Homo sapiens: one gene and its partner. The protein of the gene in region 1 purifies or fractionates together with the protein of each later gene. This does not show direct contact. Each region holds a gene or a part of one and is shown on either strand. Other genes may lie near its edges.

Region 1 (5,471 bases):
GAATTACTACATCATAGTACTTAGGGAGTCTTTTGGACATTTACTATCCCCTCCTATGTTCTGCAGTAATTTTTCTTGGGATACCTTGTTAATTTTTTAAAAATTTTGTGGTAAAATAATACCTAACATAAAATTCACCATCTTAACTCATTTTAAATGTTCAGTGGCATTAAGTATATTCATACTGTTTTGCTGCCATCACCACCATCCATAGAACTCTCTTCATCCTACAGAACTACAACTCTGTACTCATTAAACAACTCCCCACCCCAGCCATCACCATTCTATTTTCTTTCTCTGAATTTGACTACTCTGTACCTAAGTGGAATCATACAATATTTGTCCTTTTTTGTCTGGCTTATTTCTTATTTCATTTAGCGTAAAGTCCTCAAGGTTCATCCATGTTGTACCATGTGCCTGAATTTCCTTCCTTTTTTTTGAGACAGTCTTGCTCTGTCGCCCAGGCTGGAGTGCAATGGAGCAGTCTCAGCTCACTGTAACCTGTGCCTCCCAGGTTCAAGTGATTCTTCTGCCTCAGCCGCCTGAGTAGTAGCTGGGATTACAGGCATGCGCCACCACGCCAGGCTAATTTTTGTATTTTTGGTGGAGACAGGGTTTCACCATGTTGACTAGGTGCAGTGGCTCATGCCTGTAATCCCAGCATTTTGGGAAGCCGAGGCAGGCAGATCACCTGAGTTCAGGAGTTCGAGACCAGTCTGGCCAACATGATGAAAACCTTCCCTCCTAAAAATACAAAAATCAGCCGGGCGTGGTGGCGGGCGCCTGTAATCCCAGCTACTCGGGAGGCTGAGGCAGGAGAATTGCTTGAATCCGGGAGGCGGAGGTTGCAGTGAGCCGAGATCGCACCATGGCACTCCAGCCTGGGCGACAGAGTGAGACTCCCGTCTCAAAAAAAAAAAAAAAAAATTCTATTATATGTGTGTACCGTATTTTGTTTATTCACCTGTTGATGCACACTTGGGTGATACCTTGGTTATGGGGAAACATTAATGATAAATATGTGAAAGTCAGGTTACAAAACATGTAGTGTGATCTAACTTTTGTAAAATGACATAATGTAAAAATTCCCAAAGAATAACTAAAACATTGACAATAGTTACCTCTGGAAATTGAGGATATTTTGCTCATCTCTATTTCCTCCTTCTCTGTAATTATTATGATTTGGATTGCTTTTGTAGTAAAAATCAGTAAAAGATAAAAGCTAATGTAAATGTTAATAATTATAGATGCTCTTACAATATGTTAACTGTTTAATTGGCAGGCAGGTGTAATGCTTACCTATTGGTGGAAACCCTATGGGGCCTGAACTGACCTTGTAGTACTTTGGACCTGAGATGACTCTGGGACCAAATTATATCTGTTGCTTGTCTTTTAGGAAAGCTATTTTTGATACACCAGATGAGGATCCAAATTACAATCCACTACCTGAGGAACGGCCAGGAGGCTTCGCCTGGGGTGAGGGCCAGCGGCTTGGAGGTTAAAGCAGCAGTGCCAATAATGAGACCCAGCTGGGAAGGACTCGGTGATACCCACTGGGATCTTTTATCCTTTGTTGCAAAAGTGTGGACACTTTTGACAGCTTGGCAGATTTTAACTCCAGAAGCACTTTATGAAATGGTACACTGACTAATCCAGAAGACATTTCCAACAGTTTGCCAGTGGTTCCTCACTACACTGGTACTGAAAGTGTAATTTCTTAGAGCCAAAAAACTGGAGAAACAAATATCCTGCCACCTCTAACAAGTACATGAGTACTTGATTTTTATGGTATAAGGCAGAGCCTTTTCTTCCTCTTCTTGATAGATGAGGCCATGGTGTAAATGGAAGTTTCAGAGAGGACAAAATAAAACGGAATTCCATTTTTCTCTCACTGTATTAAAGCTTTTGTGTGTGATCTTTTAAATTCTGATAATGTATTGTAGCCCTCCTGCGTAGATCTGAGCTCAGAACAGTTTACACAGCTGTTCTTCCTGTGTCTTCACAACTTTTAACTGGATTTCATTTCAGGATTGGAAATACGTGGCTGTCATGCTGTGGTTGTGTACATCTTACTAACTCAGAATGCAAGATTCAGCAGGAAGATGATTTATTTCTGTCATCTGGATAGGTTGTTTTGCATCTGGGTTTTGCCAAACTTTGTCAGACAACATGAAAAAAAAGGAGGGAGGATGGTTCTTGTAGCAGTAGGAATTCAGCTATAGGAAAGTCAGCTGTAAGCTAATGTGGCATCTTATTTGCTTTACTTACATTTCTCCATTAAGAAGTATCCAGGGAAAGATTGGTAAGGGCCACATTTTTGTAAAACTAGGAAGATTTTCATTAGACTTTTTTTTTCTTTTATTTTTAAAAAAGTTTTAATTAAAAATTTTTTTTTAAATACAGATGGGGTCTCACTGTGTTGCCCAGGCTGGTCTTGAACTCCTGGACTCAAGCAATCCTCCCACCTCAGCCTCCCAAAGTGCTAGGATGACAGGCATGAGCCACCATGCCCAGCCATTTTTTTTTTTTTTGCCTTTTTTGTTTTGTTTTGTTTTTTGTTTTTTTAATTAAAAAAAAAAAATAGAGACAGGGTCTCAGATTTTCATTAGATTTGGAAACCAAGTTAGAATGTTGACTTTGGAGCCAGACGAACAGATACCAGTTAGCTAGGCATATGTTCTTCCAGGGTCTTTGGCTAGTTAACATTAGTCATTTGCTTCGTGAAAATTCAAGAACCTTTTCAGAGCCAAGTACCTGGATTACCTTCCCAATCAGGTAGAAATTAGACAGGGTCCACAGAAGTAGACACTTAATGCTGTGGTTCAATAAATACTTCCCCTAAATATTAAGTCTTCCCTGAGTCTCAGCAGGTTTGCATTCACACTGCTTAAGTAACTTCCAGAACCTGGAAGAGTCGAAAGAGCACCCCTAGGAAAGAGATGATTCCAAACAGCTTTCATTAACGGCATGTAGGCACAGGTCCCTTTCCCAAAAGTGGATTGTTAGTAGTAGTTCATTCAACCTTTGTTAAGGGGTAGCTTTCCAGAATGTGACATTGTCCTCAGAAAGATAGACATAGGCTTAAACATAATGGACATCCTAAATAGGAATTTTCAGATTGTTTTTGAAGTGAAAAGTGTTTTAATGTCTTTAAATGGAATTGCATAACTAATGGTATTTAAGTATTTTACATGTTGCTAATAACTTTGAATATGATTGTTGCAATTTTATGGAACCTGGGTCTATGGGACTGCTTTTTAAGCAGTTTAAAAAAGGTTTTCAAAGTTTAAAAGCCAATCTTAGCATGTATAATCCTTATGGGATTCTTAAGTTTTATCCTATCTTGTTTTTGCTCAAGAACGCTTTATCAGTGACGTTTGTTAGAATTTTGTTTTTTGTTTTTTTTTTTTAAATTGTTTTTGGGCTAGAAATGAGTTTCTCTAGTTTTATTTGTTCTCCCTGAGTTGGAGTTATGCAATGAATGGCATTTTTGTGGTAAAATACTAATCCTAAAATCTGTTAACTCACTGTTCATTTAAGTAGGGAATATCTGTATACATTAATGACTAGGTAAAACAGGAAATACATTTTGAATATACAGCCTAAAGGCAGGCAGTTACAGGGTTTTTGATTTCTCCGATTTTATAGGGTGCAAGTTCCCAGTGGCAGGATGCCCTGCTGTGTGACTGACTACACTGTGTCCTGAGCAGTGGTAATTTCAATCACCTCTCATCAGTTTGGCCAGCCCTACAACCACCATTCCTAGCCCTGTGTTGCTTGACAGGATACCTGTGCTTGAATGGACATAAGGAAAAGTCCTTACTTTCTCCCCAATTTACCTCTCAATCTTAGTTCTTCCAGAACACACTTCCCTTTCACAATGCAAATAAACTGAAAGTGAGATTTGATACATGGAATTTTGAGACCAACCAACTAACCTTACACATAATTTGAGGGATTCCTGGATTCTTCTAGTGATACTGAAAAGCACACTTGACTAAAGCATAGTGTTTTTTGTTTGTTATGGAAATACGGTATACGTTCATTTAAAAATAAATGGACATACAAATTGCATCTCCTTAGGAGATACATTTTATATACATTTCGGTGCGTTTTTTTCCAGTATGGATTTCTATTTGTTTCTCTCTTCCTCTTGTTTTTTCTGTGTCACTCTTGTATGTCCTCATATCTTTCATACCTCTTGTGTAGTCTCTAGAAGCAGAACACCTAAGTCCTGGGTCTGGATAATGAAACCCTCAGTCTCTGGGGCCTCTGAAAATAAGGAAGCATTGGAGCTATTGCCATGTTGAGTAATGGGCTTCCTAGAACTATTGTCATCTATCCTGCCAGTGTTTTATGTTGTAGCTGTTTTTCTTTGACAGGTGAGTTCCAGCTATGTTGTTAGTCATGATCCTGCCATTATTTTCTGTGTTCTGTAGGATGTCTCCAGGCTACTTAAACATATTTTATGAGTTTGCAATAAAATTGTTGAATCTTGTATGATCAAGTCACTCCTCTGCTCAGAAATCCACAGTGACTTCTTAGTAAGCCCCTACATTATATGCATACTTGTTTTTTTCTTAACTTTACTCCCACTTCTACCTAACAGGGACCTCAACTTAAGTCTCTTCAGTTCTTCAAGGCCTGGCCTTGTTCCTGATTCCTCAAAAAATCTTGACTCTAAGGCCTATTTTATTGTCTGTCTCTGAATCCCTATAAAGCTTCAAGTCTGTATGACATTCTTAACGCCAAATTATATATTGTCTTGTACTGTTCCTAGCTGGTACATGTATATTAGTCTTGTCTCCCTCATGAGAATGTAAGCTCCTTAAGGGCAGGGACCATGTCTTAATTTTTGTATCCACCACAGTGCCTAGCACAGTGCTTGGCACATGGGTGCTGAATAAATACCTTTGTTTATTGATCAGCAAAGTATTATCTGGTATTTTTAATTATAGAGGGATTAAAGTGTATGCATGCAAGCTTGAGCCTAGTTGCTGAAGCTTGTGGTTGTCTCTGAAAGTGGGATAGAGGGAAACTGAACATGATCAAGGGCAGTAATTTGGTGGTCGGAAAAGCAAAGGTGACCACCAGCTGTTATGGTCGTGATCAGACCAGTTAAGTCCACAGACCATCCCAGACAAGTTAAAAATGAAATGTGTCTGACACTTCGTCGTTTGAAGGAAGAACCAGGATATTCTCTGAATAGTTATTAGCTTGTCAGTATCTACATATGAAAGCTGGTGAACCCCAAGAGACTTCTTCAGGAGAAACAGCAGATTTCAGTCTACCAATGGGAGAAATGTGAGCAGCATGGCTTGATGCATATATAGGACTTAATTTTTCCACTCTTTGGTCCTCTTAGCTTTGAGGCTATAGAATAGCTGGATCATTAGGCCAGAGATTATGGATGAGTTACCTACAGATTTGTTACCTACCTATGTGCTTTGTTTTGACAGTACTTTTTTTTT
Region 2 (7,046 bases), on another chromosome or scaffold:
GCTGGGAACTTGTACTTTGGATGACCCGCTCTGGTTTGCCTGCTCTGCTCATTGCATGTCCTGAAAGTGCTGCAAGTATGGATTTTGGGGCTACAAATTTAGTGAGCAGGTAAATGAGCAAATAAGGAATCCATGAATAATGAGGATCATCTGTATATAATTTTAGATTGTCAGTTTTTTCATAACTTTAAAGGCGTTCATTACCTTTTGGATTACATCAATGAGAGGTGAGGTCATTCTTATTGTTGTTTACCTGCTTTTTTCCTCTGACTGTTTTTAGGGTTGTCTCTATCTTTGATTTTCAGTTTGACCCTTATGGTGTGCCTTTTTGTGGTGTTGTGTTTATTCTGCTTGGAGTACATTGAGCTTTGTGGCTCTGTTGGTTGGTATTTTCAAAATGCCAACTTCTGTCCAATTTTAGGCCATTTTTTCTTTTTTTTTTTTTTTAACTTCTTCAGTCTTTTTTAAAGAGACAGGGTCTTAACTGTGTTGTCCAGGGTGGAGTGCAGTGGCGTGATCATGGCTTGTTACAGCCTCAAACTCCTGGGCTTGAGTGATCCTCCCATCTCAGCCTCCTGAGTTGCTAGAACTGCACGTGTGCACCACTACACCGGCTAATTTTTAAGTTTTTTGTAGAGATAGGGTCTCACTGTGTTGTCCAAACTGGTGTCCCAACTCCTGGCCTCAAGTGGTCCTCCCACTTTGGCCTCCTAAAGTGTTGGGGTTACAGGCATGAGCTCCCATGCCTGGCCACTGTTGCTTTTTTTAAGGGGACTGCAATTATAGGTATTTTAACTCCTTGATTGTCTCTCAGCACTGAGGCTCTGTTCCTTTTTTCACTTGCCCTTTTCCCTTGTTGTGTTTCAGTTTGGATACTTTCTGTTGTTGTTTTTTAAGTTTGTTTATCAATAAATCTTTTTTTCTGTATTGTCTAATCTGCCTTTAAGCTCATCTAGTGATTATTTTCAGTTAATATAATTTACAATTCTAGCATCTCCATTTGGTCCTTTAGTCTATATTTCTCCACCAAGATTCCCTGTCTACTCTATATGTCTGTCTTTTTCTGTACTTAATATCTTAATAGCTATTTTAATTTTCATTTTAATATTTGCTAATCCAGGCCAGGTGTGTTAGTTCACACTTGTAATTCCAGCACTTTGGGAAGCTGAGGCTGGCGGATCACTTGAGGTCAGGAGTTTGAGACCAGCTTGGCCAACGTAGTGAACCCCGTCTCTACTAAAAACACAAAAATTAGCTTGGTGTGATGGCAGACACCTGTAATCCCAGCTACTCAGAGGCTGAGGTGGGATAATTGCTTGAACCTGGGAGGTGGAGGTTGCAGTGAGCCAAGATAGCCCCGCTGTACTCCAGCCTGGGTGACAGAGCAAGACTCCGCCTCAAAAAAAAAAAAGTGCGAATCCAACGTCTACGTTATTTGTTTGTTTATATTTGCTATTCTTTCTTATTTATGGTCATATTTTCTTGCTGCTTTGCATGTCCATTAATTTATTTTATACTGCATGTCATGGATTTGGTGGTTTTAACTTTGTTCTGGCAGGCAGTTAATTTGCTGGAAAATCATTTTGATCCTTTCAAGTTTTGATTTTAAAGTTAGGGTGGGTCTAGAGGTAGGGGTCTGCAGACTTACAGGGCCAGTTAGAGTAAATAGTTTAGGCTTGTGGGCCATACAGCCTTTGTCTAAACTGTTCGTCTCTGTTTTTATTGTGCAAAAGTAGTTATAGACAGCACAGAAGTGAATGGGCGTGGCTGTGTTCCAATACAATATGGGCTCATGAGCCATGGTTTGCTGACTCTTGGTCTAGAGTATCCTTTAGGCTTAGAGTAGTCCTGCTTGAGGTGTTTAGAGAGATCTTTCCTTTCTGACTGGTCAGAATTTTTAGATCAGGTCTTCAGCACTTTCTGACCTTCGATATAATCCAGTTAATTTGCAGCTCTACCATAGGTTTCTTGGCTAGGCCTTGCCGAGTCTTGTGCTGTGCACATGCAGCGTAGTATTCACCCAGAGGTTTAAGAGGAACCCCTATCCAGATTTTTGGAGCTCCTTTTCTGTGAGGCTTTACTTTGTATGTTACCCTGTCTCACAAATTCCAGACAACTCCTCAGCCTCCTCAGCTTAGCAAGAGTGCGGTATTCTTAGGCTTCTCTCTGTACTGTAGACCAGAATGTGCCTTCAGACAGAAAGCAGCGTAGTCATCTTGCAGGTTTCCCTTTTCTCAGGATTCACACTGCTGTCCTGCCTCTTGTCCAGTGTCTCAAGATAGTTGCTTCTAGTATTTTGCCCATATTTTTAGTTGCTTATATTGGAAGAATTAGTCTGTTGTAATTACTCTCATAGCCAGAAGCAGAAGTTCTATGGTTTTAAAATGCAGGTTTTTTGTAGTATTGTAATTAGATATGATTTAAATGCCTCTTTTCTCGTATGTGAAATGGGGGTAACAGTAGTACCTACCTTACAGGGTAGTTTTGAGAACAGAATGAACATCTGAAACAAATGTGCCGGCTCAGCACAGTACCTGTCCCACATTAATGTTTCTATAAATGTTGTTACATTGTAAAATAGAAGCAATTGATCAATGCAATATTTCTGCTAATTACAAGGTATTTACTGGGTGACGATTTACCTTGTTTCAGGAGAACTAACTTGAGGGGCTGATACAGTAAGAAGGATTGCACCAGTTGCACTTGTACATAAATACATCCTTCAGAAGATGAAGCACATCTCGTGCTTTGAGGAAGCCTAGCCAAAAAATAATAATAATTATAAAGCACAAAGACTTGGGAATTAGATGTTTTGACCCTCTGGCCTCCTAGTTCTGTGACTTAGGGCAAGTTGTTTCTTCTTTTTTCTTTCCCTCTCCCTCCTTCACAACATTTTTAGGTGGGTACTCTTATTATCCTTATTTTACAAGTTTCATTAGGCACAGAAAGGCTAAGAGTTACAGTTGTAAGTGATGGATTTGTGATTTGGACTTAGGCAATTCAATTTCATGATCTGTGATTGCTTTATTAGGAGTCTGAACTGTATTCTTGAAGTCCCAGAAGATAGTTAACTATTCTGGATTTTTTTAAAGAGCTTTTAGAAATGTAGTACTTGTTTTATGGGTAACTGGATCGAATCCCATTTTACAAAATGAAGATTTTTCTTTTTTTCTTAAACATAATGAATCTTTGAAATACCAATTTGAAAACTTTTTTACTTAGAAAAATTCCAGGAATATAGTTTTTATTATAAAAGATTATTGCACTAGGTAGGAATAAGAGTACAGTACATTAAAAAAATACTTTAAAATTATGGCACAAATTTAGATGTAGTTTGTTTTCCCACTAACTTTAACAGTAATATATGTTTCTAGTTCACTTTCCAGATAGACTAGCCTCTGAATTAGTGGCTTTTAACTATATTGTCTAGATAAAAAAGACAACCATTTTGTTAAGAATTGGTTAACTGTTATTTAGATGGAGCAGCTGCGTAATTATTTGGTTCTGCTCTTTGACCCTCAAATTTCAGTTTTATACAAGCTAATAATTCATTATTTTAGCTGAAGGGAACTTTCCTTCATTTTACAAATGAGAAACTGTAATTTAAGATCACATAGCAAGTAATCTTTTAAATATGTGTACACATATATATGCACTTTATTTAAAAATCTTATAAGCCATTATGTTACCCCTTTGACTGGATAGCCCATCCTACCTAGTGCTCTAGGTTGGAGGAAACCCTTTTAAACACACATCATAAATTTCCCGTCATCACCCTCATCTAGGAATCCTTTAAGTATGACTTCATGCCCAGTATATATTTATCTAAAATATATAAGACCTTGTGAAGTTAGCTCTCCTAATTCATTAAGGGTAATATGCTTGGAAGACAAGTCCGTATTCATGTTAGCTACATTTCTTGGATTTTTATCTGTTTTGATCAGCCTTGTCTAGCTTGTCCATCCAGATGAAATTGTCTAAATTTATTAGGTTCTCTCTGTTAAAGGAATATCACCTTCCAGTCATCTCTCAGGCTGTTTCAAATTGTCTGATGGTAGAGGCCTTTCTCTAGTGTAAACCATGGAAGATCTTTAGCTTAGGATCTCCCAACTGCAGGTACAAGATGACATTGTACAAAGTTAATATTACCAATATAGAGTGTATTAGTTAGCTTGGGCTGCCGTAACAAAATACCATAGGCTGGGTGGCTGAACAGAAATTTACTTCTCACAATTCTGGAGGCTGGTAAGTCTAAGATCAAGGTGCTGGCAAGGTAGATTTCTTTTTGAGGCCTCTTCTCCTGGCTTATAGGTGACCACCATCTCACTGTGTGCACACATGACCTCTTGTGTGTGCCTGGGGAGACAGGGAGCATGACAGCAAGCTCTCTGGTGTCTCTTCTTGTAAGGGCATTAATCCCCTTGGCCCAGGGCCCCACCCTGACTGCATTTAACCCTAATCACCTCCCAAAGTCCCCATCTTCAGATACTATCACTTTAGGGGTTGGGGCTTTAACATGAGTTTTGTAGGAAATATAAGCATTCAGTTCTGTAACATACAGTGATTAAGGAAATGGGCTCTGGAATTGAATTGCCTTAGTCTCTCACTTACTAGTTGTGTATACAAATAACAAGTAGCCCTCACTTAGGTTAATTTTAAGCAAAACCAATAATGGTGTCATCCTAAAGGCAGTTAATTTTTTTTTTTTTTGTATTTTGGACTCTGGCATTTGGACATTGGCACAGGACTAATGTCTTCAAAGAGCAATGTACAATGACTGTAACAACTTAGAATGTAAGAGAAAATGCATAATTCTTTAAAAGTGTTTCTTTAAATTGAATATATGCCAATAACAAAAGATTAAACATTTGTAGTTGTTAATTGTATTCAAATTCAGCTTTTTGTTTTTGGCCTGAATAGAACAAGACAATTTACCTATGTGAAAACCTGAGTGAAAGCTTGGGATGTGATATGTTAAGTAGAACAGTATTTTAAAGCCACTTTGATTCATAAGTTTCTTTAACATAAACAGGTTGTATTGCCTCTTGAAAAATGATAGGTTCTATGGATAACATTTAATTAGCTTTATAATACATATGATGATTTAACCTGAATTAATGGTACTACTTTTTCTGACTTCCTTTTGATCTTGGCCCTTTCTCTGTAAAGTTTTTTGTTAACTTATTACAAACTGAACCCTGGCTTGCTCCTCTTATCTTTAGTCTCCTTTCAATCTGTCTTTATTTCTGCTGAGGTTATATTCTATTTGTTTTTCAGATGAGACCCTTTTTGCTCTTCCTGCTGCATCTGAGCCTGTGATACGCTCCTCTGCAGGCAAGTTCTTTCTGCCAGCCTTTTATCCTCTCTGTATTCTAACTTTAACTCTTTAGTGTGTTAACACTATGCAGAGTAGTTTGGGTTTACTAAAAATTAGCATGGTTCCGAGAATGTTTTGTCTACTGGAAAAGTTGAAATGTGCATTTTATATGGTATGCCCAAGGGAAAAATGAGCAAAATCTGATGAATACTTGGAAGTACATAAGGAATTCTTGGACCCTTGAATTACATTTACATATTTACCATTCCCTTTCTCCAAATACAGTTTGAGTATAGCCAGAAAGGCTTTCCTGTAAATAAATACCAGTCTATGGCATTTACCCAGTGCCCCTTCTTTCCTATGCTGTCACCGAAACTCTTTTCACAGATATTCTTCTCTTCTCTAAAACTAGCTATTAGTATCTTAGTTGATAACATTTGAGGTTTACTCAGACTTGATTTGTCTTTGCACAGCATGTAATTGCCTCTGTAGCCATGCATATGTTATATTTACAATAGCTTAATATTTTCAGTAATGATTGAAGTCTACTCTATTGTTACTTATTAATTGCTATTAACATTTCATTTTAGTAAACAGTAAGTCTTTACTAACACTATTTTGGATCTGTCATAAAACTTGCATTAACTCTGAGAACACTGGCATTCTCTAACTTTCCTTTCTGTCCATGGTCACAGAAAATATGGACTTGAAGGAGCAGCCAGGTAACACTATTTCGGCTGGTCAAGAGGATTTCCCATCTGTCCTGCTTGAAACTGCTGCTTCTCTTCCTTCTCTGTCTCCTCTCTCAGCCGCTTCTTTCAAAGAACATGAATACCTTGGTAATTTGTCAACAGTATTACCCACTGAAGGAACACTTCAAGAAAATGTCAGTGAAGCTTCTAAAGAGGTCTCAGAGAAGGCAAAAACTCTACTCATAGATAGAGATTTAACAGAGTTTTCAGAATTAGAATACTCAGAAATGGGATCATCGTTCAGTGTCTCTCCAAAAGCAGAATCTGCCGTAATAGTAGCAAATCCTAGGGAAGAAATAATCGTGAAAAATAAAGATGAAGAAGAGAAGTTAGTTAGTAATAACATCCTTCATAATCAACAAGAGTTACCTACAGCTCTTACTAAATTGGTTAAAGAGGATGAAGTTGTGTCTTCAGAAAAAGCAAAAGACAGTTTTAATGAAAAGAGAGTTGCAGTGGAAGCTCCTATGAGGGAGGAATATGCAGACTTCAAACCATTTGAGCGAGTATGGGAAGTGAAAGATAGTAAGGAAGATAGTGATATGTTGGCTGCTGGAGGTAAAATCGAGAGCAACTTGGAAAGTAAAGTGGATAAAAAATGTTTTGCAGATAGCCTTGAGCAAACTAATCACGAAAAAGATAGTGAGAGTAGTAATGATGATACTTCTTTCCCCAGTACGCCAGAAGGTATAAAGGATCGTTCAGGAGCATATATCACATGTGCTCCCTTTAACCCAGCAGCAACTGAGAGCATTGCAACAAACATTTTTCCTTTGTTAGGAGATCCTACTTCAGAAAATAAGACCGATGAAAAAAAAATAGAAGAAAAGAAGGCCCAAATAGTAACAGAGAAGAATACTAGCACCAAAACATCAAACCCTTTTCTTGTAGCAGCACAGGATTCTGAGACAGATTATGTCACAACAGATAATTTAACAAAGGTGACTGAGGAAGTCGTGGCAAACATGCCTGAAGGC

Evidence for each region. The genes of interacting proteins can lie anywhere in the genome.
Region 2: the proteins of DERL2 (region 1) and RTN4 purify together in Homo sapiens (affinity purification with mass spectrometry; 3 studies listed by BioGRID and IntAct, with this or other methods). This does not show direct contact.

The regions. Positions count from the first base shown.
Region 1 is NC_000017.11:5,470,715-5,476,185, reverse strand, and holds the end of DERL2 (derlin-2), read left to right. Parts: intron 1-1,396; coding exon 1,397-1,502; 3' UTR 1,503-4,932; downstream 4,933-5,471.
Region 2 is NC_000002.12:55,026,452-55,033,497, reverse strand, and holds part of RTN4 (reticulon-4), read left to right. Parts: intron 1-5,277; coding exon 5,278-5,334; intron 5,335-6,012; coding exon 6,013-7,046. UniProt on the Homo sapiens protein: Required to induce the formation and stabilization of endoplasmic reticulum (ER) tubules. They regulate membrane morphogenesis in the ER by promoting tubular ER production.